Linked DNA regions of Homo sapiens. The protein of the gene in region 3 interacts with the protein of the main gene of each other region in a pairwise test. Each region holds a gene or a part of one and is shown on either strand. Other genes may lie near its edges.

Evidence for each region.
Region 1: the proteins of KRT18 (region 3) and CCDC146 interact in binary tests that used the Homo sapiens proteins (3 or more experiments, as listed by UniProt).
Region 2: the proteins of KRT18 (region 3) and EFHC1 interact in binary tests that used the Homo sapiens proteins (3 or more experiments, as listed by UniProt).
Region 4: the proteins of KRT18 (region 3) and MACROD1 interact in binary tests that used the Homo sapiens proteins (3 or more experiments, as listed by UniProt).

Annotation. Positions count from the first base shown.
Region 1 is NC_000007.14:77,258,610-77,265,630, reverse strand, and holds part of CCDC146 (coiled-coil domain-containing protein 146), read right to left. Parts: intron 6,637-7,021; coding exon 6,563-6,636; intron 5,623-6,562; coding exon 5,395-5,622; intron 3,511-5,394; coding exon 3,324-3,510; intron 276-3,323; exon of another isoform or gene 168-275; intron 1-167. UniProt on the Homo sapiens protein: Essential for sperm flagellum biogenesis and male fertility.
Region 2 is NC_000006.12:52,415,552-52,423,349, reverse strand, and holds the start of EFHC1 (EF-hand domain-containing protein 1), read right to left. Parts: upstream 3,009-7,798; 5' UTR 2,940-3,008; coding exon 2,877-2,939; exon of another isoform or gene 2,369-2,876; intron 2,343-2,368; exon of another isoform or gene 2,282-2,342; intron 1-2,281. UniProt on the Homo sapiens protein: Microtubule inner protein (MIP) part of the dynein-decorated doublet microtubules (DMTs) in cilia axoneme, which is required for motile cilia beating.
Region 3 is NC_000012.12:52,944,271-52,952,121, reverse strand, and holds the start of KRT18 (keratin, type I cytoskeletal 18), read right to left. Parts: upstream 3,005-7,851; 5' UTR 2,949-3,004; coding exon 2,532-2,948; exon of another isoform or gene 2,262-2,531; intron 1,795-2,261; coding exon 1,712-1,794; intron 1,373-1,711; coding exon 1,216-1,372; intron 642-1,215; coding exon 477-641; intron 392-476; coding exon 266-391; intron 4-265; coding exon 1-3. UniProt on the Homo sapiens protein: Involved in the uptake of thrombin-antithrombin complexes by hepatic cells. When phosphorylated, plays a role in filament reorganization. Involved in the delivery of mutated CFTR to the plasma membrane.
Region 4 is NC_000011.10:64,009,111-64,016,131, forward strand, and holds part of MACROD1 (ADP-ribose glycohydrolase MACROD1), read right to left. Parts: intron 6,172-7,021; coding exon 6,142-6,171; intron 1-6,141. UniProt on the Homo sapiens protein: Removes ADP-ribose from aspartate and glutamate residues in proteins bearing a single ADP-ribose moiety. Inactive towards proteins bearing poly-ADP-ribose.

The DNA.
Region 1 (7,021 bases), on a different chromosome or scaffold from region 3:
ATGTGTCCCTTCTATGGTACTTAATCTAGATTTTCTGGTAGAAGTGAACCTAAGTCTGTTTTTTTGTGTGTAGTCTTTTAGAACCAATCTTGTGATTTTTACCAATGTATAACCCTTCTTGAGCTAAGAAGTATTAATTTATGAGACAAATTATTGCTTCTATTTAGGTTACCTTACTCTTCAATATTAAGAATGCTTTGATGATTCAGCATTAGAAGCATATTGAATGGATTAACTTTACTTACTACCATAACTACCAAAATTGGTTATTAAAGGTAATTATACATTTTATCCCATTGTTTAAAGAAATCTTACTGAACAGTTATTTGATCAATAAACAGGAATTGTTTTATTAGTACAAGCAACACTTGCTGGTTTTAAGAGTCTTACTCATTACACTGAGGTTTCCGTCAGTACTTTGAATGGACATTATAACTGCGGTCTACTATAAATCTTACTATGACTGAGGAGGGGTGGCCACAGGGTCTGTGTTTGCCCAAAGTTCCAATTTAACATCCTAACGTGCTGTGCTTCGGGCTAAGATGGAGTAGCTTATAGTAAACCAATGCTTCCAACAAGAATAACTTGGAAAGTTGGAGTGAAAATATGTTTGAGGGCATAAGAGTTGCAAAGGTTAGTAAAGTTAAAATCATCAAAGGTATTAGCACTGTCTTGGAAGTAGTAAAAATACAAATAACTTATATTTGACTCTAGTAAGTCAAAGATGACTGTTGTAATCTTCAGGGTAACCACCCAAAGAATAGAAATAGAATGTAAAACTAACTGATGCATATCTAAAACAAGGATAGCAGAACTATATGAAACGTTGATTAATCCCAAGGAAGGAAATGTGGGAGAGAAAATGGAACATGAAGCGGATGGGATACAGAGAAAGCAAAAGTAATATCACAGAATAAGGACAAATATATCCACAATTACATTAAGTATTAATTTTTAGACTAAATACAAGAATTTAAAAAGGCAGAACTTATCAGACTAGATTTTGAAAAGTATGTGCTGTGTATATGAGACACACCAAAATGAGGACACAGAAAGAGTGACGGTAAATAGGGCTGGGTGCGGTGGCTCGCACCTGTAATCCCAGCACTTTGGGGAGGCCGAGGCAGATGGATCACTTGAGGTCAGGAGTTTGAGACCAGCCTGGCGAACATAGTGAAAGCCTGTCTCTACTAAAAATACAAAAATTAGCTGTGTATTGGTGGCACATGCCTGTAATCCCAGCTTCTTGGGAGGCTGAAGTACGAGAATTGCTTAAACCCGGGAGGTGGAGATTGCAGTGAGCTGAGATGGTGCCTGCACTTCAGCCTGGGCAGCAAAGCAAGACTGTCTCCAAAAAGAAAAAGAAAAAAAAATCAAAGTAAATAATACCATGCAGAATCTAACACGCCAAAAGATAGTGTAACTGATGTTATTATTCTAAAATCAGACAAAATAATATTTTAAGGCAAAAAGTACTACTAGAGTTAAAGAGATTTCAGAGTGATACAAATAAATCTACCTGTTGGAATTGCAATAAAATGATTAAATAAGAAGTATATATATCATAAATATACTATATATAACAGTTATATAAAAGTTATTTGTGAAAACACATATATAGTAGAACATACATGTTTTATTGGTTTTGCAAAAGACTATAAAAGTACATTTTGCCTCACTGAGATAGAAAACTTCCTTTTTTTGTTTGAGATGGAGTCTGGCTCTGTTGCCCAGGCTGGAGTGCAGTGGCACAACCTCAGCTCACTGCAACCTCCGCCTCCCGGGTTCAAGCGATTCTCCTGCCTCAGCCTCCCAAGTAGCTGGGATCATGGGTGTGCACCAGCACACCCGACCAATTTTTGTATTTTTAGTAGAGACAGGGTTTCACCATGTTGGCCAGGCTGGTCTTGAACTTCTGACCTCAGGTGATCTGCCGACCTCGGCCTCCCAAAGTGCTGGGATTACAGGCAGCAGCCACTGTGCCCAACCAGAGAACTTCTTGAAAAGATTATAAGTGCCATCTGACAGCAAGACGAAGTCCAAGTCCTAGTTGTTCGTAACACTCATAACCCTAACCGATTTTTTCACACATGTTGCTTAAGGTTGGTCTTTCAGTCAGGACAGGCTAAGTTATGCTACAGAAATAAACGACCTCCAAATATCATGGCTTCGAACTACCAAAGCTGTTTCCTACAAAGCCGGTGGGCAATCAAGAGGACTCTGAGACCACTGTTGGCTCAGCATTCCCGGCTGCTCCCATTTTACAGCACCTCCATGGTGTCATGCACTTCCACAATTACCACAGGAGAGGGAAAAACAGCTAGAGGGTCTCACATTGGCAATTAGATGTTATAGGCTGGAAGTGACACGTGTCACTTTTGTCTACAATCCTCTGGCCAGAATGAGTTATATGACTCTGCTCAACTGCAAAGGGTGCAAGGAAGTATAAACTTTCTATGTGCCCAGGAGGAGAGGAGAACTAGGCATAGGTTAGGATCAGAGGTGTCTACCACAGCTGGAAACTCCTGTTCAAATTTCTTAGGTCATGACCCTCCATAAGGTTCTGGAGCATGACAGTCCTGAAGAGAACGGGGAAGGTTTCTATACACCTAGCTGCTTCATCTCAGAGGCTGACCCCTTTTTCGCTCAAGGAAGGCTCTAGCACAAGGCTGAAGCCCTCTCAAGGATCCTCTGCCCTTTCAGTGGCGCTTGGTCATTTACCACAGGGAGTGCCCTCTGAGAGAAAAGAGAGCCAGGGGCAACCAGACCCCTCACTTGGGAACACAGAGGCAGGTAACAGTTGTCTTGAGCATCTTCTGACTGGAGTACACCTCTGACCCTGCACAGAATTAGCCAGGCAGCCTGATATTGGGTTCTGGATTGCCCTTGGCTAGTCGGAAGTGCAGGCTGCTGATCATTTATGTCTATGTAATTTGATCTAGTCCTTCACTGTTATAGTCTGCCATGACACCATGCCGGATCTGACTCCTTCAACTGGTGAAAATAATGATCCACTTGGCCCCATTCTGCAGTGAACCCTCTAGCTCTTCTAGAACTGGATAGTCCAGTCATTTCCCCAGGTCAGGCTGAAGGATGACTGATCCAAACAAGACATTTCTCTAATCTTGGGTTAGAAAAATGAGATTACGAAACATTATAGGACTATAGATTTCATAATAGGCTTGACGCATTTGAAAATTACCTTTTCTCTGTTACTTGTATTTTCTTCTTCTCTACTGGCAGCAAAAACAACTTCCTAAAATATTTTTACTTCAAAAGTTAGCACCGAGCTTAAAAATCAGATGGTAGTTTACAGCCCTCACCTCTAATAGAAGCCTTTGATGCAGTGCTTGAGTTTGCCTAAGTGCATCCCAGGACACTTTCAAGAGCAGTTCCATCTTTCTTAAATTTCGAAAATCTCGTTCTTTCTCTCTTTGCTTACGAGAAAGTTCATCATGGTAGTTCTGCTTGTCAATGAGACTGTTGCGTAAATTGAGATCCAAGATCCCTCTGTTCCAGGTAAAGGAAGAAGAAGAAAATGATTTTGTTATCAGCTGTCCTAAATGTTTTTCAAAACTTATCAAGACAGCATGCTGAATATTGGCTCCCAATCTCTTCTGGCAAAGACCTAAAAACAGAACTACCGTTTGACCCAGCAATCCTATTACTGGGTATATACTCAAAGGAATATAAACTGTTATATCCTAAAGACACATGCACACATTTGCTCATCACAGTGCTATTCACAATAGCAAAGACATAGAACCAACCTAAATGCCCATCAATGGTAGACCAGATAAAGAAAATGTGGTACATATGCCACAGACTATTATGCAGCCATAAAAAAGAATGAGGGCTGGGCGCGGTGGCTCACGCCTGTAATCCCAGCACTTTGGGAGGCCGAGGTGGGTGGATCATGAGGTCAGGAGATCGAGACCATCCTGGCTAACACGGTGAAACCCCGTCTCTACTAAAAATACAAAAAATTAGCCGGGCGCGGTGGCGGGCGCCTGTAGTCCCAGCTACTCGGGAGGCTGAGGCAGGAGAATGGCGTGAACCCGGGAAGCGGAGCTTGCAGTGAGCCGAGATTGCGCCACTGCAGTCCGCAGTCCGGCCTGGGCGACAGAGCGAGACTCCGTCTCAAAAAATAAAAAATAAAAAATAAAATAAAAAGAATGAGATCATATCCTTTGCAGGAACGTGGGTGGAGCTGGAGGTCATTATCCTTAGCAAACCAATGCAGGGACAGAAAACCAAATATCACATGTTCTCACTTATAAGTGGGAGCAAAATGATGAGGATACATGGACACATAGAGAAGAACAACACACACTGGAGCCTTTTGGAGGGTAGAGGATGGGAGGAGGGAGAGAATCAGGAAAAATAATAGGTACTAGGCTTAATACTTGGATAACAAAATAATCTGTACAACAACCCCCCATGACACAAGTTTACCTATAACAAACCTGTATGTGTAACCTTGAACTTAAAAGTTTAATAAAAGACAGCATGCTCAGTATATACACACATGACTATTCTCATGTTGGAATCATAAATTGTAAATAATGCCAAAGGCAACTAGGTTTGTGAGTTGGTATCATTTAGAACTGCAGTCTTATAACCCCCACCCCCCAAAAAAATAACAGACTGGCAGAGATAGAAGCCTCCAGTTTCCTTGAAATTTTACTTAAAAGCAGGACATAGGCTGGGCGCGGTGGCTCATGCCTGTAATCCCAGCACTTTGGGAGGCCAAAGCGGGTGGATCACGAGGTCAAGAGATCGAGACCACCTGGCCAACATGGTGATACCCTGTCTCTAATGAGAAGAAAAAAAAAAATTAGCCGGGCGTGGTGGTGCGCACATGTAGTCCCAACTACTCGGGAGGCTGAGGCAGGAGAATCACTTGAACCCGGGAGGCAGAGGTTGCAGTGAGCCAAGATCGTGCCACTGCACTCCAGCCTGGCGACAGAGCAAGACTCCATCTCAAAAAACAAACAAAAAAGCAGGACATAAAACTCTCCTAGGGAATTACACCACGAAATTGCTTCTGTTAGAAAAAAGTCAAGATGGCCTAAGAAGTATCATTCATTTGTTGGCAAAATCCCTGAACATAACATACTCCAGTGATAAATTTTCCAAAGGCACATTCAGAAACTTACAACATACAACAGATTATATCCTGAAAATCTGGTAACAGAAAATTGAGAAAATTTGAGTAAAGTATCAAAAAATACTTCAAAGTGCTTTATTTGATAATATATTAAGGGTAAAAGTTGATTTAAAATTATTTTTAAATATTTATTAACTCAACACCAAAGTGAGATTTTGAATTCTCAAATATAAATTGAAGAAAAATTTAGATGACAGAACATAACATACATAAATATAACTAACCTTTCAGTTAATGAAGTTGCTTCATTCTCTCTGGCTAATTCCAATAGCTTGACCAATTGGTTATGTTCTCGTTCTTTGATTTCAAGTAAGGCTCGTTTGCCTTCAACTTCCTTTATTACATTTTCCTTCTCATCCACTATAGCACTAACCTTGTTTTCAACTTTCTTTAGGGAGTCATTTAGCGTTTTGACTTCTTGTTCCAAGACAATTTTTTTCTTTTCCATTTCTCTGTAGGGGATACACACACACACACACACACACACACACACACACACACACACACACACACACACACACTTGCCTTATTTTGAGGCCATGCTGGCTTTACCTATTCTTGCTTTCTAACCATGCAGCAGAAGAGATAGTCATAAATTCAATGATCTCAGCAGTGGGTAAAGACCACAGATGGGTGGGACTTGGAGGGTATCTCCACTGAGTGCCACGGAAGGCAGGAATTTGCCCAGCCTCCCTACTTTCTGTGCAGATCCCAATTTGCTACCATCTCCTGTGATTCAACCCTCGTCCTGACCAGCCTCCTGAAACTGACCTGAGTTTCTCAACTTTGATGTTGGTGAGCTTAGTTTTTAGAACAGTTACTAGTGCCTGCCTAATTTTTCCCCTTAAGATTAGTCACCAGAGTAATTATATTATTTTTCCAGAATTTTTGTATCTTCACTTAAAATCTTTATCTTTTTTGGTTCCTTAAACACTGAGAATTTCCTCAATGACCTCTGCCTCCCAATCTACTCTGAATATCTGAGGAGTGTTATACACATGAATGGGTGGCAAAGTGGGGAGTTACTATTATTTGGGCTTTGGGCTGCTGCCTGGCTGATATACTTCTAGACTATGAAATTCTAACCAGTTCGCATAATTTATCCCATGCACCGCTCTGTTAAAGTCAATTGAACTTCTCCATAAAAATATGATTTATAAATTGGCAACAGAATCTTGACCCATAATTAAGCCATAAATACTATGAATGATAGAAATTTGGTGCATTACTTTCTTTTAAAGAACTTGATATAAACAACCTAGACAGGGCCCAAAGCAGAAATTTCTAAAATTATCATAGTAATTTAATGTGTCCAATGGTTAGTACTCTTGTTCTAGTGTGCACACATAACTTGGACTGGCAGGGATTCAAAGTAAAAATATTAAATCATACACTTTTTTGCGTGTTATTTTTTCTATCTCTTTTCCAATTTGTACTGGAATGGTTTGATGGTGGGCCACTTCATCCTAGTAAAGAAACGAAATCATGTTAAATTATGCGGTCTTCGGCTAGAAGCAATTAAGACAAGAAAATTAAATATGAGAGAGAAAGGAACTACAATATGTAGATACTTACCATCTGCCCTGTGTGCTTTAATTATCCCATTTAATACTCACGGTGACCTTGTAAGAGAGCTATATTTGTTATCATTTTGAAGAGGAGGTAACTGAGTGTAGCAAATACTGTTGGTCCTCTGCCCAGATTCCCTTTATGGAGGTACAGATGCTCCTCCACATACAATGGAGTGACGTCCCAATAAACCCGTTGTAAGTTGAAACTACCTTAAGTTGAAAATGCATTTAATACACCTAACCTACTGAAATCATAGCTTAGCCTAGCCTACATTCTCAG
Region 2 (7,798 bases), on a different chromosome or scaffold from region 3:
AAGAGTATCTCATCTATACTCTTAAGTTTTTCACTAGTCTTCTCATGTTTTTCATCTGATATCTGGGGCCGTAAAAACTGTAGAACCTAGAAGATACGGTTCTGTGAATTTTATTTTTACATGGAATGAATTTATTTTTACCTGTCCCTCTTGTCACAATGACAGTGATACATTCTTACAACTCTTTGGAAAGCAACTGGATGGTATATATTTAAAGTCTTGAACTCAATAATTCTACCCCGACCATTTATTTACGAATATGATTCAGAATTATGAGAAAGAACTATATGCCTGAAGCTGCCCATTACAATGGTAAATGTTGAAGACAATCTAAAAGACAGTCATATGAAGACATGAGTAAATGATCGAAAACTCACTCAATGGATTATGGTGCTGTCATTAAAATATTGATTTTAGAGATCACGTGGCAACCTGGTGAAAATATTTATGATTTAATAAGCCTGAAAAAGCAACATATAAAATTATATGTGTACTGCAATTATAAGCATGGAAATATGTGCATGAAGAGACTGGTTTGGTCCTCTGTATTATACATTTCTAAATTATGTTGATTTTTTACAATGAACACATTTTTATTTAAAAGATTAAATAAAAAAGAGTAGAAAGGCAAATTAGAGGTTATGTTAATGGTTTCCTTTTTCTGTTGTGAGGATACTTTCACAATTACTTATCTATAATATTCAAATATATACATAGATACAATTTAAGATTAATCATAAAAAATATTTTTATGAAAAAAACTTTCTACATCCTAATTGCTTTAGAGCCCAGCCTACCATCTTTCAAGATCTGTACTAACATGAAAGGTACAACAGAATAAACTTCTTTTGCTAAAAGGGTTATAAACTGTATATAACCCATAAAAACAAATGTATGACATTTGTTTTTAAAGGTCATGTATTCAGAGTCACAAGTCAGTTGACAGGGACTGCTCCAGGTATATAGTAAACATGACATAGAACAAAATGCGCTGAGTTGACATCCTCATTGGGTAATTTATGGAACTTCAAGCTCTTCTTCCACCACCAAAGACAGAAGCAACATCAGTGACTTCAGTTTATTTCTTTGTTTTAGACAAATGTCTCTACCATCATTCAGCCATAACTCACAGACACCCCAGGCAAGGCAACCTCGGCCCTTTCCACCCCTCTTGTCCATTATGGTTCACCTTCTGTGTGTCTTTTTTTAAAATCGTTTTCCCACTCCCCTTTAAAAATTTTTTAACTTCTTATCTGCATGTCTTTAGAATTACATTAATACATATTCAGTCCTTCACTGCTGAAGATATACTGACGATGCTTTTCAAATTTCAAATAGGGCAAATTGGTTGACACTTGGCCAGTGTATTTAAAATCTGAAATATGTCCAATGCACAGTTCTTCTTACTTGTAATACAGCAATATGTTTTTAGAGCTTTGCACTTCCATCCACACCTCTGTAATTCCCTGTATCAACTCAGCCCTGTCTATACTCACCAACACCAAAAGCTTAAGCTCATCCTGTATAGGGCAGGCAAGTGCCTACAACATTTTCTAAATTACATAAAACTGAAAAGTCCACTGAAACTAAAAATCTATGATGTTGTGTCTTAATGCAGGGATAATTACAGAGATTCAGAATACAAATTCTCTCACCAAACTTTCGATTTCATTCTAAATTGATTCTTCCAAAGAAAATAAATTGACAAAATATTTTAACTTTGTGAAGCTGGAGAGGAAGGCAAGAGTTTAAAGTATTAAACTATATAAACATAAACTACTGTTAGCTCATCTATGATGATCAGTCTACTGAATCTCATTATTGATTTTTCAGCACATACATTTCAGTAGCCCTGTCAGAATTAAAACAAACCAAATAATTTTAAGAGCTAAACTGTGGCAAGAGTTTAAAAAAAAAAAAGAATCCAAGCTGCTGCTACTTTTTAAAAAATTTTGTCTAGAAAATGCAAATAAAAACACAAGGTTGGGGAAGGAGCAAAACAAAATCTAAACAGGAATCTTTTTACAAAAACGTTAGAATAAAAAGAACAGGGCCGGGGAAGAATAAACAGCAACTAATCAATTCTTGAGGGAACTGGAAAGGAATATCTCTTACAAAGCAGGGAAAGATGCTTTGGGAGGAAGGTGAGCAAGTTTTGGGGAAAACCCGCAACGGAGAAAGAAAGGAATGGGGAGAGGATGGGACTAAATTGTGGAAAATGTAGAAGATGGAGAAAAAAGAATGGGGTTGGATGCAAGCATAAAGAAGAAAGGAAAAAGACCTGGCGGAAAGAAGAGGAGCGGAATCGATATACATACAAAACAGGAAATGGAGCTGGGAGTGGGAGATACTACCGGGTACAGGATTCAGAAGAGGAAGAGGTGGGGCGGGAATGACGGACCTGTGGGAATGAGGTTGAAGGTGCATAGTGGCGGGGGGTTTTAAGGGCGGCGATGGACGGAGACAGGTTATGATGTGAGAGAACGAGCTAGGGAGAGGGCCCAGAGATAGGTTGGGAGTAGGGTGGGGGAAACAGTGATCTAAAGGGACAAGAGGCAGGGGCTTGGAGGAGCAGGGCCGTAAGAAAGAACGCGGCTAACGGGATGAGAATGAAGGCGCCAACACACTGCCAAGATGGAGTGGGAAAAAACTAGAGAGGGATGAGGCGGAGGGCAAAGGATCGGAGAGAGGGGATGAGGATGGCTAGGGAAGAACGGCAGAAGTTCGGCCCAGAATAAAGAACAGGGTCAGGACAGAAGACGTGTTTGGAGAGAAGACAGACTTGAGTGGAGGGGAATGGAGGTGCACTGAGCGGGGAAACCTCCTGGGCTGCTGGAAGGTGGGGACAGGTGGGAGTCTGGCAGATAACTGCTCACCGTAGAGTCCTTAAAGGACGTGCCCGGAAGAAAGGGCAAGCCATGCACGGGATTGGACACCATTGCAGCCGGTACCACCGCCGCCACCTAGGTCCTGCTTCGTCCTCTCCGGTTGCCCAGGCGACAAGCAGTGTTCGCGGGCACCTCCAGGATCCATGGTAACGCTAAACATCCGGAACTCCCACGAGCGGAAGGCGGGGCCAGGAGGCGCAGGCATCACAGGAGGTTTGCGCGTGCGCCATCCGCAGGACTCCGCGTTCTCGCGGTAAGTGGGCCGCGGCCTTGGAGCGCGGCTAGTGGGCGTGGTTGTGTCGGCCCCTCCTCTTCCGCTTCGCCCCGCCCCGCTCCCGGAGGATGAGACGTGGGAGCTGTTGGGTGGCGCGGGGAAAGGCGGGTGTAGCGAGGCGGTAGTTCTCGCTGTGAGATCCGGGGTCCGAGCAGGCCCTTAGATGAGTTGCAGAGAGGGACGTTCCTTCTCTCCTTCCACCTAGTCCTGGCGGACCTCACTGCGCCCCGCCAACGCTGTGAGCTCAGGCACTCTTTTCTCCCCCCTCTGCCCCATTTCACACAGAAGTGTAAATGGTCGGTCCAGTTGGCAGTGCTACTAAACTAGACCCATGCTTCTTGTAGGCAGGGGCCGAGGATTACCCATGATTGTGTTTCTGTTGCTCAGGGATGGTCAATGAACTAATGCAATCATCTCATCCTTAATTCTCCCACTGCCACATTGTATTTTTCCCCTTTTAACTCTTTTTTAAAATCAATCTTTCTCTTTCTTTCTTTCCTTTCTTTCTTTCCTTTCTTTTCTTTTTCCTTCCTTCCTTCCCTCCTTCCCTCCGTCCCTCCTTCCCTCCTTGCTTCCTTCCTTCCTTCCCTACTTCCCTCCTTCCGTAGAGATAGTGTCCCACTATGTTGCCCAAGCTGGTCTCGAATTCCTGGGGTCAAGCGATCCGCCCACCTCGCCTCCCAAAGTGCTGGGATTACAGGCATGAGCCACCGCGCCCAGCTCTCTTTATTCTACCATCAATCCCTTCGGTTAAACACCTTTGTTTTTGTAGGGAAAGCCTTGAATATGTGCTGCAGGGCAGGGTGCACTCTGATAGGTACTTGATTTTTGTTGACTGAAGAGCTGCAGGTTGAAGGGTGGTCACCTCAATCCCTCGTTTGTACCTGCAGCTGCAATGAAAAAGATCAGAACCACTAGGAGGAACACAGCTCCTTCAAAGAGAAAGACTAAGTCTTGGGAAAGAAGCAGATAAGTGAGGTGAAATATTGTCAGCATCATAGGTATAGCCTTTGATGCTTTTTACAAAACTTGCTTAAATTATTTTTTCTTAAAAGAAACATAATCCTATTCCTGAAACATTTTTTTTGGGGGGGGGGGGAGAAAGCTATCCATCATTGCTGAGGAGCTTAAAAATAAAAAGTAATCAAAACCCACGTGCCGAGAGATTTGGATTCATTAGGTCTGACATGGAGGCCAGGAATCTGATTTTTGTAACAGGCGTTTGTGACAAGCCAGTTTAGGAACATGATAGAGTAATAAGCCAGACACAGAAGGCATATCTCAGTGTCACAGGTAGTTTACTGCCAATACAGACAGCAGCTTTACTTTTATTGCTGCTTGTCAGAGCAAATCCCCCTGTTGGGTTTCACTAATTTGTGTGACGCTCAGGAGGCCCAGGACATGAATGCATTAAGTGGCACCTGAGGCAGTTATTGATGCCTGCTTACCATACCCTGCCCAGAGAGTTTCCTTTCTAACTCTTCTCCCCTTACTACATCTGTTTCCTGTTCTTGTCCTTTTTTAAACCTCTTTTTCTTTTTCTGTAAGTACATTACCTTAATGCAGCAGTTTAATACATTTTTTAAAAACTTCAATGAAGTTTTTTTGCCTTTGGTGCTTTTTACAAAACTTGCTTATTTTTTAAAAAAATAAATGTAATCATATTCCTCAAACATTGGTTAGCATTGTGGAAGTTACTGAAAACTTTTAAAGTACCTGTCCGTTGTATTATACCTTAGACACCAACTGAGGATGGATGCCAGTCACTGGAGGAATATGTCAAGATGGCAAGTTTGCTGGGTGCGGTGGCTCACGCCTGTAATCCCAGCACTTTGGGAGGCCGAGGCGGGTGGATCGCCTGAGGTCAGAGTTTGAGACCAGCCTGGACAACATAGTGAAACCCCACCTCTACTAAAAATACAAAATTAGCTGGGCATGGGGGCGCATGCCTGTAATCCCAGCTACTTGGGAGGCTGAGGCACGAGAATCGCTTGAACCCGGGAGGTAGAGGTTGCAGTGAGCCGAGATCGCGCCATTGCACTCCAGCCTGGGCAACAAGAGCAAAACTCCGTCTCAAAAAAAGGAAAAAAAAAAAAAAAGATGGCAAGTTTAACCTTTCAAAGATAAGGCACCTCTCCCACTTCTCTCCACCTCATTGACGCTGATTACCCAGAATCACTGGTTACTGTAATTTTTGCTGACTCTTCATGATAACCTTAAACTGTTAGAAGTTCCATGATCCCTCCCTACCCACTCTCTTATTAAAAGTAAATTTCATGGCATTAGGACACACTTTGAAGAGCTCTTCTTGACTAAGTGCATGGTTGCACTTGGATCTATATTCCTGGGTTGGGTAGGGAAGGAGCGTGTGGAGCTGGAAAGGCTGAGTCATGCCTAAGCCTATTGTCCATTATCGCATCTGTTTCTATTTGAGGAGTGCCCTCTGCTCATGCCTTTCTTTCCAGAAAAGCACGCCAGTTAAATGGCTAAGGGGTGTGTTTTAACTACTTTCGGACCCCAGAAATGCATGAAGACAACTTCTGTTGGTCTATGGCCTCCTAAAAATGCTATCATCTCTGAGGAGGGGAAGTCAGACGTACTGCATTAGTGTTAAAAGGCACAGGGACAAGTCTGTAAAGAAGTGGGGCGGGAGGAAAGGCAGGGCTTCAGAAAGGTACCTGGATCCTCAGAAGGTCTGCTGTGATTAAGAGTTTGTATCCCAGTCGGGTGCAGTGGCTCATGCCCGTAACCCCAGCACTTTGGGAGGCCAAGGTGGGCAAATCACTTGAGGCCAAGATTTTGAGACCAGCCTGGCGAAACCCCATCTCTACTAAAAATACAAAAATTAGCTGGACGTGGTGGCACATGCCTGTAGTCCCAGCTACTCAGGAGGCTGAGGCAGGAGAATCGCTTGAACCGGGGAGGCAGAGGTTGCAGTGAACAGAGATCATGCCACTGCACTCCAGTCTACATGACCACTTAGCATGCATTGCACTTCAGTTTGTACCCACCATTTCCCACTTAGTGGAATATATAAAAGAGGGCAGGAAACTGACCATTCCTGGCAGCTAAAGTAGGAAATGCCATGATTGAAAGGCCATTGCATAAAGCCTGACTCAGAAGACCACAGAAATATTGCATGATTTTAGCAGGTGTTCCAAAACTTGGGGAATGGAAAAAAATTGAAAGGTCAGACTGCCAGGAGCCAAGCCTGAAAGAGGGCCTTGTGGGCTGGGTAATGTCTTCCAGGCAATCCTGATGGGACAGGCCATAAGCAGTCAGCTAAAATAAACCTCTCCTCTTTCAGCATTTTGCCCAGAGCTGACTTTACCCAGAATTTGTTTTCAAAACTGTGACATTCTCATTCTATAATACCTAAATTCACAGGACAAAAAATACCAAAGGGCTGTGTGTGCATGTGTCCTGGATTACTTCTGCAGTGATTTGGTGTTCTGCTTCCCTCTGCTGGGTAAAAATGGTACAGCAAAATTTCTGGAAAAGAAAACAACCAATTACATACCTGCAGGTTTTGCAGGTACTTGGGGGTGTGGTGAGCACGTGAATATGGCCAGGGGGTGTCCCTCAGTCAGAGTGCTCTCTAGCATTCCTTTCCATCACTCCATGGCCTCTGAAATATTTTATCTAAAAAGAGGGCCCAGTCATCCACTTCGATCTTTGCAAAGTATGGGAAAAGGAGAAACATCCAGTGATTAGATTTAGGATCCACAGGAGATCTTCATTTGACACAAAAATTACATCATTTGGGTCTAGACTATTTTAGTCTTGATGTGGGCTCCTGCCTGGGGTTTGGAAAAACCTGTATTTCTGCTGCTTTTTCCTCCCTTAAGTCAAACCTATTCAATAGCTTTAGCTGATTCCGTTGGAATTCTCTTTCCTTGTCAAAGCTGATGGAACATACTTCACAGGATATAAGCGTCATAAGAAGATGGTCTTCATTTTTTCATTGCCATTTTCCTAACTCTCATCACAGTGCCTAGCACTACATAGATGTCCATTAAATAGTTGGAAAATTACTGACCTACTACAGTTAATGAATGAATGACTCAGCGGTCACGTGGGAAAGTATTTTTCAAACTGCTGCAGATTTCCTTTAGCAGTTCTTCAAATCAACTTAATAGGTTGTGACCACAACGAGAATTATTTTTAAAAAAGAATAGAATAGAAACTATCCAGATGCATTCCATTTTGTTTGTAAGAATAATTCAGTGAAAGTTTTTTCAAGATATATACATACATATACATTCATAGTGAGAGTATATCATGATCACAGTCAAAATGCTTGAAAAGTAATTGACACAGTCCGGTTAGCTCATTTTACTAATGAGAAATCTCCAGACCAAAAGAGATCAAGGAACTATCAATTAATGACTGGTTCCCAATTGAGTATTTCTTACACTCCACCTCAATCCTCTGACATCTAGGAAAGACAGTCCTCATTTAGCTCAGGACAGATCATTGATCTTGGCATCCTGCTTGTGAGACATCTCTGGCATAATAAAGCTCTCAATAGTACGGAGAAAGAGAAGTGTGAGAATGTTGTGGTAGTAACATTGACTAGAGTTTTAGATTCCAAATGTGGACAAGAAGTGAATTCATTAATTCAGGTAAATGGCAA
Region 3 (7,851 bases):
CTTCTGCAGGGGCACAGAGAGGAGGGGCAGGGTGAGCCCAGAGTCCCAGGACTGCTCATCCCTTCACTTTTGGAAACTTTTTTGGGCACCTGCTATGTGCCAAGTACTGGGATAAGGGATAGGAGTGGAGGGAAATGCAAAGAGGAAACTGACTCTTTCTGAGCTAAAGGAACTCATGATATGAGGGATAGGATTTGGGTTGAGACAGGGTTGGGTCTGAGGCCAAGTGAAGGAGGAGCTGGGCAGGTGATGTGAAGGCACTCACCAGATTTCTCATGGAGTCCAGGTCGATCTCCAAGGACTGGACTGTACGTCTCAGCTCTGTGAGCGTCGTCTCAGCAGCTCCAACCTCAGCAGACTGTGTGGTGACCACTGTGGTGCTCTCCTCAATCTGCAGGATGGGGACAGTCCATCAGGCCCCTCATTCCGTCTGCCTCCCTCCCACACCTTGGCAGCCATCCCCTCCCCTCACGCACCTGCTGAGACCAGTACTTGTCTAGCTCCTCTCGGTTCTTCCGAGCCAGCTCGTCATATTGGGCCCGGATGTCTGCCATGATCTTGGCGAGGTCCTGAGATTTGGGGGCATCTACCTCCACGGTCAACCCAGAGCTGGCAATCTGGGCTTGTAGGCCTTTTACTTCCTAAAGGTGACAGGGGCAAAAGTGAGGAGGGTTCAGGGTCAGAGCTCCAACAAGGCCTTTCTTCTGTGATTGCCTCTTCTAGGAGGCCTACAGTTGGAGAAGAGACAGGAGGAACCCCTTGGCTTGCACTCAGGGCAATGCCAGTTCTGGCCTTTCTACTCCAGTGGGTAGAAATGCCACCCACTCACTGATGGTTTCTCTGTAACTTCACCCTGTTCCTTTATCCACCCTCCCCTTCACAAACCTGCTCCTTCTACCATCTTTTAGGAAGCGCTGCCAACTCCATCTGCTGTCATTCCTTTATCACCCCCAGCTCCTAGTGTTAGCTGCTTCTACTTCTGTTCTCATCTCATTTTCTAACCCATATCATTTTGACCTGTAATTCAGGTGAGCCAGGGTGTACTCGACCCCCTGAGAATGCTCTTCATCAGAACGGTCTTATTTAAGAAGAGCCCAGGCTGCTATTTCTAAACGTCTTAGCAAGGCTACTTGCAGTTGGTTTGTCTTGTCTATTCTCCGACCCAGACTTCTCTTGGCCCCTCAATCCCTGGCCTGGCCAGTGGCCCCTGCTTGCCTCTTCGTGGTTCTTCTTCATGAAGAGCAGCTCCTCCTTGAGAGCCTCGATCTCTGTCTCCAGCTGCAGTCGTGTGATATTGGTGTCATCAATGACCTTGCGGAGCCCATGGATGTCGTTCTCCACAGACTGGCGCATGGCCAGCTCTGTCTCATACCTATAGGAGTGGAGGTGATCAGAGGGGCCCCTATCTCTGATCCAGAACCTTCTCAACTCATGCCACCTACTAAGAGAAGTTCTGTGCCCATTGCAAACCAGCAACTTGAGTCAGCAATTAGGTGGTAATCCCCTGAGCACCATTCTTGGCACTTGGAGGACAGTATTCTTAAACGGGGTTATACAAATGAACAGTTAAATGAATACACTGATGGACCCTGACTCTCATCCACCCACACCTAACAGGATCCCACTGTGAGCCCCTAACTGACCCAGCCTGGGGAGCAGATCCTTCTTAGCTCCACCCCTGGACCCCCAGCTCTCTAGCCCCCAAACTTACTTGACTCTAAAGTCATCAGCAGCAAGACGGGCATTGTCAATCTGCAGAACGATGCGGGCATTGTCCACAGTATTTGCGAAGATCTGGAGGGATTGTAGAGAGAGGTTGTTCCATGAATAGAAAGCCAGGGATGGGTGGGGTGAGTGTGTAAAAAGTGTTATGTATCCTAGTGAAAACTTCCTGGTCCCAGGAATAGCCAGAGGCTCTCCCTGGACACCTATCCCTTTTCATCTAGCCCCACCCCATTCCCTCCTTTCCTGGATTCCCAGATCCCAGCACTCTGCCCCTCTTGGGAAGCCTCAGCAGGCTGGCTAGCTGGCTGGCCTGCCTGCCCAGAAGTGAGTCGCTACTAACAAGTCCTCTTCCTGGCCCTCTCCTGGCATTTTTTCCCTAGTGCACCTGGTCACTCTGGGCCCCCTACACCCTGGATTGGCTCCTCCCAAAGGAAGGCCTCTTGTTTACTCCTAGATGACTCAGCCTTAGCCACATCCGCTTAACCCTCCAATAGTCCCCATTCCGCCAGAGCCAGTGTCTCCTCCTCTTTACAGGCCTTTCCTTACCTCCCTCCATGCTGTCCACTTCCTCTGTAAAGCTCTCAACCCTGTCCCCTTCCCCCTCTCTCCTGGGAAAGAGCCCTCCCATGCCTAGCTGCTGCTCTTAGGGACCCTGTGGCTAGGTGCGCGGATGGAAATCCAGGTATGCCCAACCCCCTCCCGGTGGAGTAGGGGTTGGGTGGTTATGGAATGACGGAAAGAGGCAAAGGAGTGTATAATTGGAGGGTCAGACAAGGCTGGGAGTTGAGGTCCCTCCTACCCCTTACCTGAGCCCTCAGGTCCTCGATGATCTTGAAGTAATGGCTCCAGTCTCTGACCTGGGGTCCCTTCTTCTCCAAGTGCTCCCGGATTTTGCTCTCCAGCCTCCGGTTCTCGGTCTCCAGGCTCCTCACTCTGTCCAGGTAAGAGGCCAGGCGGTCGTTCAGGCTTTGCATGGTCTCCTTCTCGTTCTGGATGCCTCCCATTCCTGCCAGACCCCCGGCTATCCCGGTGGCCAGGCCCCCGGACCCCATGCCGCCCCTGAAGCTGGTGGAGCGGGACACGGAGATCCGGGAACCAGAGCCCCCAGCGCCTGCATAGACGCTGGCCGCGCTGCTGACCGGCCGGGCGCCGTAGCTGGGCGCCTGGACAGAGCCCAGGGACCGGTAGTTGGTGGAGAAGGTGGAGCGAGTGGTGAAGCTCATGCTGTCCGGGGAGAGAGAAAGGACAGGACTCAGGCTTTGCGGACGACGGTGGCGGCCTGCGCGAGCCGCGCGACCCGAGTTATATCGCAGAGTGAGGCCCCGCCCCCGCCCCGGAGCCGCTTCGGAAGCCGGAGCCACAGGTGGACGGCTCGGAGCCCGCGCCCTCCGCCCCGGGCCGCTCCGCCCCGGGCCCCACCCCCGCGCCCTCCGCGCAGCCCTGCCAAGCCCCGCTCACCCCCCAGAAACGGGGTGGCCAACCGGGCATGGACACGGACAGCAGGTGTTGTTGGCCCTCGAGGCTGCTTTCAGGGCAGGAAATGACGTTATTATGCTCTTCTCCCCCAGGTGGAGGAGGTGCTGGCGAGTTTGAAATTTGGGAGTCTTGACCGGGCGCAGTGGCTCACGCCTGTAATCTCAGCACTTTGGGAGGCCTAGGTGGGCGGATCACGAGGTCAGGAGATCGAGACCATCCTAGCCAACATGGTGAAACCCCCTCTCTACTAAAATACAAAAAATTAGCCGGACGTGATGGTGCACGCCTGTAGTCTCAGCTACTTGGGAGGCTGAGGAAGGGGAATCGCTTGAACCTGGGAGGCGGAGGTTGCAGTGAGCCGAGATCGCGCCACTGCAGCCTGGCGACAGAGTGAGACTCTGTCTCAAAAAAAAAAAAAAAAAAAAAGAAAAAAGAAATTTGGGGGTCTGGTGGTGTGCGGGTGGAATGGCCTGTGAGTCCCTCTAGCTGTCCTTAACCTGCAGCCCAAATTATCCACTTGTGGAGGGGATCTTGGGGGCATCCTGGAGCCCCAGGAGTCCCGGGGAAGAAAGGCTGGGAGCTGGAGAAGAGGAGGAGAAGCAATGCCCAGCCTCATAGCTGCTTGCTTACACACTCACACCCCAGCTGCACCTGGCTCCCAAACACTCCTCGCCTGCCCACGTTTCCTCACACACACTCACACCCGAATCATACAGAGGTGTGCTCTCAAATGCACACACACATACATTCACTCAGCAAATAGGTGCAGACTCCCCAAAACAAACCCAGTCTCTGAGCCCCCTCCACCACCCTCCCCTCTCCCGACCTCACTCCCAAGGGCCTTGCCTCAGTGGAACACTGTGATTTGGACAGGGAATGCATCCTGACTTCTGCACACCGGTATATCACCTTTCCTGCATCCTTAATTAAACAAATCCTGAGCATTTACAATTCAACCAGTATGCATTCAGCACCTACTGTGAGCCAGGCCCAGTTCTAGGAGCTGGGAGAGAAGGGCGGTGACAAAAGAGACCAAAAATCTCTCACAGAGATGATAATGTGTCCCACATCGCCGGGCACAGTGGCTCATGCCTGTAATCCAAGCACTTTGGGAGGCCGAGGCGGGTGGATCACTTGAGGTCAAGAGTTCGATGCCACTGCACTCCAGCCTAGACAACAGAGCAAGACTCTGTCTCAAAAAAAAAAAAAAAAAAAAAAAATTTGAGACCAGCCTGACCAACATGGTGACACCCCTTCTCTACTAAAAATACAAAAATTAACCAGGCACAGTGTGTGCCTGTAATCCCAGCTACTCAGGAGGCTGAGGCAGGAGAATCGCTTGAACCCAGGAGGCAGAGGTTGCAGTGAGCCAAGATCGTGCCGTCGCGCTCCAGCCTGGGCAACCAGAGCGAAACTCTGACTCAAAATAAATAAATAAATAAATAAATAAAAGTAATGTGTCCTACATCGCATGGGGCCTGAGAGGACAGGCAGGCACTCCTAGGACCATCATAGCAGCGACCCAGCCCTGGTGGCCAGTGCCCCTCCCCTCTTTTCTAGGACTTTTCTCCAAGCCAGTCCTTCCCCTGTCCCCCCTTGTAAGGGCTGTCTGGATTAGAAGCCTGGCCCCAGGGGACTGCATCCTCCAAGATGCTCTCCCCAGCCTCTGTGTGAGAAGGATGGAGGTAGGGAGGCTTTCATGCTGCCTGCCCCCTGAAGCTGAATGACCATCCCTGCTGAATGAAGTGTTGGGGGGAACCCTTAGGTGTTTGGCCTTCAAGTTTGTCAGCTCCAGCAGCTCGTTTTTCTGGCAGGGCCTGGTATGACACATTTGGCTGTGTTCTTTGCTCTGGAGTGGACCTATTGATTCTTATCGAGCTACCAGCTGAGGGGGAAGGGGAGGACAAATAGTAGGGCAGACCTGGGAGAGAAGGGACCCTGGAAAAGCCTGGCCAGTGGACCTGCCAGGTGGGAGGCAGAGCACAGATAAAGAGCCTGAGCCTGGATTGTTCCTGATCTGTCACCTAATGGTGGGGAGAGCCCCACAGTGCTCAATGGGAGCCAGCCAGGGGGCAGTCAGGGTGGAAGCTGGCCAGGGGAGGGTCGGGGCCTGCTGAAGGCTGGGAGGCAAACGGGATGCAAAATAACATACAAATGAATGCCCACTGGTTTTGCATACAAGGCTTCTGGGAGGTAAGAGGTTCCAGTCAGAGGGGTCTCTCCTGCTTTCACCTTTATATTCCCCCACTGGATTCCAGAACTGTCAAGTTGGGCAGTATTTTATAATAAAGTATGTGGAGTCAACAAGCTACGTACTGCCTTTTACTGTTATTGCTAAGCTTTAAGTCAGCCAGCCTGGATACTTTGCTAGCTGTGTAACCTTGGGGAAGTCACCTAACTCTGAACTTCAATTTCTTCACTTGTACAGGGAAAACAGTAAGACCTGTCCAGTCTATTTCCTCAGGTGGCAGTGAATGTGAGTGTAAATTGTCACTCACTCATTCATCAAACAAATACTAATTATTTGTACTGGAGCCTTCCTTCAAAGTAAGGAAGGCTTCAATATATACAGGAGGGCAGATAAAGGGGGTCAATTTAATTCGAAAGACGGGCTCAAGGGGTTTGAAGTCTGTCTCTCTGAGTCATTTAAAAACCCTGGGGCACTTTGAAATCTACCAGCAATCAAAACAGATTCTAGAATTTTTCTCCAAGCTAATTCCCAGGTCCTTGTCTGATTCCTGCCCCACCCCAACTGCTAGGAAACTTCTGGGACCTGTGGAGGTGCAGCGTGGGGGCTGGAGAGGGAGAGCTGCCAGCTAGACTTTATCTCTCCTACTGATGTCGATGGCCACATTCCTGACTTCTTGCAGCATGGGGCAAATACCGACCTCGGGCTTCCAGCACCAGCCTGCCCCTTTCCACCACTTCCAGATTCCTCTGTGGCTCAGGGCTTTTTCACTTTGTCAGAGAGCCTCTTGGAGAGCTGGGGTGAAGGTCTCGGCCTCCAGATTCCCAGCACTAGGGTTCTGGGGTGGGGGTGGGAAGCAAGGTGGAAAGGGGGATGGCGTGATTGTGAGGACAGTCCCGGGAAAGGGTGGAGCAGGAGGGGCCCTGGTGAGAAGCTCCCAGAACAGACACAAAGAGTAATGAGCCTCGGCAGGGGGGAATCCGGAAAGAGGGGAAATGGTTCTCCACCCACCATCAGTCCTGCATTCCAGCGTCCAGCAGAAGGGGAGTGGGAACCTGTGAGGCAGGTTTAACTTCAGAGTAGACTCAGAGATGACCCGATAGGGGTGGGTCAGCTCTTACTGCCCACTCCACATTCTCCCACAAAGGGCTTGAGCTGATGGCTCTGGGGAAACTAGGTGGTGGAGAGATGAGAGGATTAGGGAGGATTGGAAGGCCTGCAGTCCTTCCGCCTTTGCTTTAACATTTAGGCTGGAAATTCCTTGCTCAGCCTGGAGGAGGGAGGTGTTCGGAACAGCAACTGAGGTGTAAGGATGGGGTCTATACACAAAACAGGGAGAGACTGATTCCCATCCTCTTCTTTAAAGACTGAGGGTGACTCCAGTGTGTTGGAGACAGTGAGAAGGCCCTGTGGTGGGGTGGGCTGGAGGGAGGAAGGGATCGCCTGGGAGGCTCCCCTGGGCTCCTTTCAGCTACTCTCAGTGGAGGGTATACCCATGCAGGGGGCCCTCCCACAGGAGAAATCCCAGGGCTGCTGAGTTAAGGGTAGAGCTGTTGAGACAGAGGGAGATCTGGGGTAGAACCCAAAGGAAAAGGAATCTGGGGTGGAATGGGAATCCTCCTGCCCAGCCCTGCATCTGGCACATAGGTGGAGCTCCGTAAATACTTTAGGTTTAAGTAATTAATAAACATGGGGTGCTAGGAGAGGTCAGTGGGGGTCATCAGAAAGTGCAGTCAGGTAGACTGCAGAGAGACAAGAGGTGGGGGCAAGGGTACAAGCTTCAGAGGCAGCTGCGGAGCAGGGGGAGGATGCGGGTGGCAGCTGGGTGCAGGACCCAGTCTGATATCAAGACTTCTGGAATTTCAGCACCCTATTTGGAGTCCCTGGCACTGCCTGTGGAGGTGGGAACGGGTTCTCAGGGCTTGGGCCAGGCCCTCTTCCCCAGGGGTGGGAGAGTCGAGGAATGCCCTGACACTTAGTATCATTGCTTCGGTTGGGTTTGTGCCCTAGGGGTTATTTTCCAAGGATAAAGGAAGAGGAAGGGTCAGCGCTGAGAAGCGTGTGGCTGCCCAGAAACCTCCAGGCGCTGAAGCTCAGAGAAGTCGGGGAACCTGGCCCTTCTAGGAGCCCCTCAGCTCCCTGGCCCAGCCCCACCAGGAATGGCCTTGCCTGTGCTTATGTCCTTTGCCCATTCTGACCCTGGTGCTGTTGGCTTCTCCTCAGGTGCAACCCCAGTATCCCAATGCCATATCCCCCAGCCTATCGCCTCACTCAAATCTGCCCAGAGATTAGGGGAGGGCAAAGGGATGAATAGGGCACTTGGTGTCAAAAGACCTGGATTCGGCCAGGTGGCTCATGCCTGTAATCCCAGCACTTTGAGAGGTTGAGGTGGGAGAATCGCTTATGGCCAGGAATTTGAGACCAGCCTGGGCAGTATAACAAGACCCTGTCTCTATGAAATA
Region 4 (7,021 bases), on a different chromosome or scaffold from region 3:
CCGGCTCCTTATCTCCGAGTAAACATTTCAGTCCTAATAAACAGGAGAGACACGGGCGTCAGGGCTCTGTCGATTCCCATCCTGATTTAGGACCTGCCTCCCTTCTTACCATACAATAGGAGAGTGTTTTAAAAAATGTTTTTATTGAGCCAGTAAAAGCTTTCCAGGAGGGAGGTGGGAGAGAGGAGGGGGCCTGGCAGACACCAGGCCAAAGGGTCTGTCGGGAAGGCTGGCAGCTGCCCCAAGCCCATCAAGCCTTCCTGAAGCAGACACAGGCCTTCCCCCTGGGGGGCCCGTCCATCCTGCTCTACCTGCAGAACTCCTATTTAGCCTTCGGGACCCAAGTCAAATGCTCCCTCTGCTGGGAAGCCTCCTACCAAACTGGGTCTCCCTGAAGGCAGAGCCAAGCCCTGAGTCCCAGCATTTGGCATAGCTCCCTCAACTCAGAGAGAGCTCCAGGGAAGAATGGGTAGTAAGGGAGTAGGGGGACTTCCCCAGGACTCACTGCATTGCCAGCACCATCTAGTTCGGCCCCAGGGTGTGGTGGGTGGGGGTCCAGGCCCAGAGTGAGGCAGGCACAGGAGTCCTGTGCCCTCCAGGTTAAGTCCCTTTAGCCCCAGCAGCCCCTGGGGGCTCTCACTGCATTGGGGGTGCCCGGGAGACTCCCTTCTCTGCTCCCCTGAGACTGCAGCCCTCTTCTGCTCTAAATCACCGCACATTTGCCGTAAAAACAGTGGGCTCGGGCCCCAAAGCCCTGCAGGCCAGTCCCAGCCCCATCTTCTGAGCCCCAGTTGCGCCGGCCCCTCCTGGCAGGAACTCCACGCCACTACCCACACCAGGGTGTTGGCCGGGGTGTTGGCTGGGATGTTGGTTGGGTTGTTGCCTGGGGTATTGGTTGGGGTGTTGGTTGGGGTGTTGGCTGGGTTGTTGGTTGGGGTGTTGGCTGGGGTGTTGGCTGGGGTGTTGCCCAGGGTGTTGGTTGGGGTGTTGGTTGGGGGGTTGGCTGGGGTGTTGGTTGGGGGGTTGGTTGGGGTGTTGGTTGAAGTGTTGCCTGGGGTGTTGGTTGGTGTGTTGGCTGGGGTGTTGGTTGGCATATTGGTTGGGGTGTTGCCCAGAGTGTTAGCTGGGGTGTTGGTTGGGGTGCTGGCTGGCATGTTGGTTGGGGTGTTGGCTGGCATGTTGGGGTGTTGGAGTGTTGGCTGGTATGTTGTTTGGGGTGTTGGTTGGGGTGTTGGTTGGAGTGTTGGTTGGAGTGTTGGCTGGGATGTTGGCTGGGGTGTTGACCGGGGTGTTGGCTGGAGTGTTGGTTGAGATGTTGGCTGACATGTTGGGGTGTTGGTTGGGGTGCTGGCTGGCATGTTGGTTGGGGTGTTGGCTGGGGTGTTGGTTGGGGTGTTGGTTGGTGTGTTGGTTGGGGCGTTGGCTGGCATGTTGGTTGGCATGTGTTGGTTGGGATGTTGGCTGGCATGTTGATTGGGGTGTTGGCTGCCATGTTGCTTGAGGTGTTGGCTGGGGTGTTGGTTGGAGTGTTGTTTGGGGTGTTAGTTGGGGTGCTGGCTGGTGTGTTGGTTGGGGTGTTGGCTGGCATGTTGGCTGGCATGTTGGTTGGGGTGTTGGTTGGCATGTTGGTTGGGGTGTTGGCTGGCATATTGGTTGGCACGAGTTGGTTGGGGTGTTTGGGATGTTGGCTGGCATGTTGGTTGGGGTATTGGTTGGGGTGTTGGCTTGCATGTTGGCTGGAGTGTTGGTTGGGGTGTTTGCTGGTGTATTGTTTGGGGTGTTGGCTGGCATGTTGGTTGGGGTGTTGGCCAGGGTGTTGGCTGGCATGTTGGTTGGGGTGTTGGCTGGCATGTTGGTTGGCATGTGTTGGTTGGGGTGTTGGTTGGGATGTTGGCTGGTGTGTTGGTTGAGGTGTTGGTTGGGATGTTGGCTGGCGTGTTGGCTGGCATGTTGGTTGGGGTGTTGAAGTGTTGGCTGGGGTGTTGGTTGGCATGTTGGTTGGGGTGTTGGCTGGCATATTGGTTGGCACGAGTTGGTTGGGGTGTTAGGATGCTGGTTGGCATGTTGGTTGGGGTATTTGTTGGGGTGTTGGCTGGCGTGTTGGCTGGGGTGTTGGTTGGGGTGTTGGTTGGGGTGTTTGCTGGTGTATTGTTTGGGGTGTTGGCTGGCATGCTGGTTGGGGTGTTGGCTGGCATGTTGTTGGGGTGTTGGCTGGCATGTTGGTTGGGCTGTTGGCTAGGATGCTGATTGGGGTGTTGGCCAGGGTGTTGCCTGCTGCCCCTCTCCATTGAGGGACTGGCAGACTGGCAGTCCCCAGGGTGAGGGGATGGGATGTGGGTGCCAGACTGAGAGCTGTGTCCCTGGCTCCCAGGGCACACAGAGGGTGCCACTCACTGCACCACAGATGTTAATTATTTACTTCAAAGCAGGAAGCTCTTCTAGGAGCTCAGAATCTCCCATAACCCTGCCCTCGGGGGAGTCCATTCCGGTGGGGAGGCAGGCAATGAAGAACAAACACAAAACGCAAGCAGGGAATCAGGGCTGCGGGACGAAGACATGGAGCAGGGCAGTGCATCAGGGTTCTGGGCAGAGTGGCCAGGGCAGGCAGGATGGCCCTTGTGCGTGTTCGAACAATGGGTGGCTGGTCATGGGAGGGGCGCGGGTAGAGGCCTGAACTCCTGTAGGAGGGATGTCCAGGGACCCCACGGGAAGATGGGTGTGTCTGGGCAGAGTCAGATGGGGTCTAACTTGGGCAGGTAGGCGATTAGGACTGGATGAACTCAAAGGATGGTGGGAGGAGCAGGGGTATAGGGGAGGGCAGAGCACCTCCGGGGACCAGGCTGGGCTCCATTCCAGCCCCAGCATCGTCCCTACCACAGCCCCCTCCCCACCACCTCCACTGTGTTCCAATCACATTAGCAGAGTGACAGTCCCAGCAAGTGCTGGCGGCGGCTCCATAAATCTCAGCCCATGTTAAAAGGTTGGACTCCGGGCCCACTTCCTCCAGGGGCACCCGCCCCGTCCATCTCTCCATCAGTCAGGTTGTGTGAGAGGCCTGTGCCAGCCGCTCCGCACCCCTAAATGCTGGAAGGAGAACCAGAGAGACCTCTGCCATGCCTCTGAGTGGCCAGGGCAGGGCCCCTCCACTTCCTAGAGTGAGGTCACAGGCCATCTGTGAGCCACTCCTGGATTTGCCAAAACATCTTTGGTTTCCACCAGCTGCCCTTGGGTAAGTCCGTTGCTTAATGTGTAGGGTCATCTCCACCTTTACCTGTAGTTCATTCATTCAATAAACTTTTTTTTTTTTTGAGACAGGGTCTCGCTGTGTTACCCAAGCTGGAGTGCAGTGGTGTGATCTTGGCTCACTGCAGCCCCTGCCTATGGGGTTCAAGCAATTCTCCTGCCTCAGCCTTCTGAGTAGCTGGGATTACAGGTGTGTACCACCATGCCCAGCTAATTTTTGTATTTTTAGTAGAGACGGGGCTTCACCATGTTGGCTAGGCTTGTCTTGAACTCCTGACCTCGTGATCTGCCCACTTCAGCCTCCCAAAGAACTGGAATTACAGGTGTGAGCCACCGCTCCTGGCCTTAATTTTTATATTTTTAGTAGAGACAGGGTTTCACCATGTTGGCCAGGCTGGTCTCGAACTCTTGACCTGAGGTGATCCACCTGCCTTGGCCTCCCAAAGTGCTGGGATTACAGGCATGAGCCACCATGCCCGGCCCCTTGTTCCTTGTTTTTTGAGACAGGGTCTAACTCTGTCACCCTGGCTGGAGGGCAGTGGCGCAATCATGGCTCACTGCAGCCTTAACCGCCCGGGCTCAAGTGATCCTCCTACCTCAGCCTCCCAAGCTATGACTACAGGCACACATGCTAGCATGGTTAGTTGATTTTTTTTTGTAGAGATGGGGTCTTACTATGTTCCCCAGGCTGGTCTCAAATTCCTGGGCTCAAGCAATCCTCCTGCCTCGGCCTCCCAAAGTGCTAGGATTATAGGCTGGGATTACAAACATTTACTGAGCACTTATTATAAGTGCCAGCCCCAGATACAGTCTTTCATTTTCAGGGGGTAGAAGACAAGGAACACAATATGTAAGTAAATTATACAGCACATTAGAAGGAGACAGGTGCTCAGAAAAGTTAAAACCACAGCAGGGTGGGGGCCGGGGGAGTGCCAGCATGGGGCAGGGGAGGCAGCTGCAATTTCAGCTAGGGGCCAGGGTGGACCCCCCTGAGAGATGGTATTCAAGTCAAGGCCTGTCGGAGTGAACGGAGCAGCCGCGTGGACAACTGGAGCAAGGGCATTGCAGGCAGAAGGAACTGCCAGGGCAAAGGCCCGGAGGCAGGAGTGGGCGGGGCCTGTCCAGGGAGGCCAGGGTGGCCGGAGCAAAGTGGAGAGGGTGGCAGTGCGGAGGTGACTGTGAGAGGTGACTGGGGACCTAACGGGCCATGCTAAGGAACTTGGCCTAGGCCCTGAGTGAGACAAGAACCCTGGCAGGGTGGTGGGCAGAAGAGACTCGATGAGCTGATGTGGGACAGAAAGGCCCACCCCCTTTGTGATCCTTTATCTTCCTGAACTGAATGGCTAAAGATCTCGCTCCTCACAGGCTGTCTGGGATCCTGGGCCATCTCCCATCTCCCCACCTCTTGGCTGGGCTCCAGTCATTCCTGTGTCAGAGCCTCCCTCTCCTCCACTTCCAGGCCTTTGCCTGCGCTGTTCCCTCTGCCCGGGACACCCTTCCCAGCACTCTTCGCTGGGCTCATGCCTACGCATCCCTCAGATTGCAGAGGAGGCACCACCTCCTTCTAGAAGCCTTCCTGATGCCCAAGCAGGGACAGGCACTCCTCATCAAGCTCCTATGGTGCCACTCCCACCCCCACCCCCACACCACAGATCACCCTGTGTCTTGGTGGTGCTCTCATCTGCACTGGGAGCTCAGGGGACAGGGACCAGGCCCATCTGTGCCCGGCAGTACCTGTCCTGGCACCCAGCTCGGGGCCCGGCACACAGGGGTGATCAATGAACGGAGGAAGGGCAGGGTGCTGTGGGTGGGACATGCAGGTGTCAGGTCTGCAAAGTGTCCTCCAAAAGGACAGGCTTCGGAAGAGGGTCCTAGGTGGTCTGTTTTCAGGACCACAGTCCCCGGCAAAGCCCCTCATTCTGTGAGGCCTCTGGGGAGCTGTGACCTCCATGGGGACAGCTAGAGGAGAATGGGGAGGAGGGAAAACATCTCAGCCACAAACAGACCCCCATTCTGCATCCTGGCTGGTCACCGACAGCTCTTAATGCTGCTCTTATTTATTCCTGACCTTTATGCCCCTTTTATTTTTCCCCCTTTTAAAACCTGGCCTGGGCCCTGCCACCGCTGCCGTAAACACGGCCCCCGGGATTTATCCGACGGCACATTAACCCCTGGCCCCTAGCTCACCAATCATCCTGCTGCCTGTGCAGACAGCGGGCAGCCTGGCCAGCTGGGGGGCTGCAGGACTGGGCTGAGGGGCTGGTGTGGTCTGCCCTAGGTGGGCTGGCCATGGAGGCAGGTGCTGGGGGTACAGGGACACGCCCGCTTGGTATCTGTGACCTGGCCTGTATCCCTTGCGGCCAGGCCCACCCTGACCTCTGACCTCCTGCCTGCCTGGCCCTTCCAGAACCCCTGCTCCGTGGTGGTCGTTAACAATGGCAGACACAGAGACATCCCAGGGCTGAGAGCTGGCAGCTCTCTCCCTGACTTTGTGAGACCTGTCCTGGCTGCGGAGCCCGAGGTCCAAGGGCAGGGTAGAGATGATAATTTTGCCCTCACAGGTGGGGAAACTGAGGCCAAAAGGGACAGAGCTGCCCAAGGTCACAGGGAGATCAAGGTCAGGGCTGGGTTTTTTCCACCACACTTGTGGCCCCTGCCCAGTTACAGAGCAGGAGGCCTGCATTCAGAGGGGTGGGGAGCTGGCCCAGGTTGCCTGGTGGTGAGGGTGCCAGGCCTGCCATCCAGGTCTCCAGCTCTGGGGAAGGGAGGCACCCTGTGAGGACAGTGGGGAAGGTGGATTGCAGTGAGATGGGCACCGAGGGCGAGGGGCAGGGGAGGAGCAGACCCAGCAGGGGAGATGCCACACCCCACCCCCACCAAGACAGAAGGTCCACTCACCGCCACCGCCTCCGAGCAGGGAGCTGTTGGCTGCAAGAGAGAGAGACAAAGGCAGATCAGTGGGGAAGGGGCTGCGGCGGGAGTATCAGCCTTGAGGGGAGGGTGATGTCAAGATGGGAGTGGGCTGCCAGCTAGGTCTTCAGACTTGGGCACAGGGTCTTCCCAGTCCTCCGGGGCGGTAGTAGACGATGGTGAAGAGGGAGGAGGTTCTTCATGGTCCTGGGGTTTGTAGGGTGGTAGGGCTGGGGACACAGGAGAGCTATCAGGGCCTGCCTGCTCACCCGGACGCAGACGCATGGGGGGGTCCAGAGAGGCAGATGGCCCCCGCCACGGCCCTTTCATTCCTTCACTGTTTCGCCCACAGTATCTCCTGAGGCTGGTCGGCGCCAGGCCTGGTGCAGAGATGTGGGGAGGAAAGGACAGGTCCCCTTCCCCAGGGCTCACAGCTTCCGGCAGGGCATAGCCTTGAAGCCACTAGGAAGCAAACTGCACCTTTGCAACCGGGCTAAGCGCTGCCCAGGGCCAGAGCTGGAGGACTGAGAACGCGGAGCAGTGCTGAGGGGGCGCAGAAGGGGGCAGGGGCGGGGGCGTCCAACTGCGAGAGGGACAAGGCGAGCCGGGTAAGGGGCCTGGAGCGCTGCCACTGGAGCCAAAACCAGATCAACAGCGGGGTGACTGGGGCCATGTGGCTTCGTGCCTCATTTTCCCCATGTGGGAGAATAGCCCCACCTCACCAGCTGGTGTGAAGGTCAATGGAGAGGGGTCCTCAACTCTGAGCCCCGCTGCAGGAAGACCTGGGTCCCCGCCCCCTCCTTGGACTAGGGGTAGTGCTGCCAGGCAGAGCTGGACTGACGGCTTTGTGGCTGCCACCTTCCTGCGC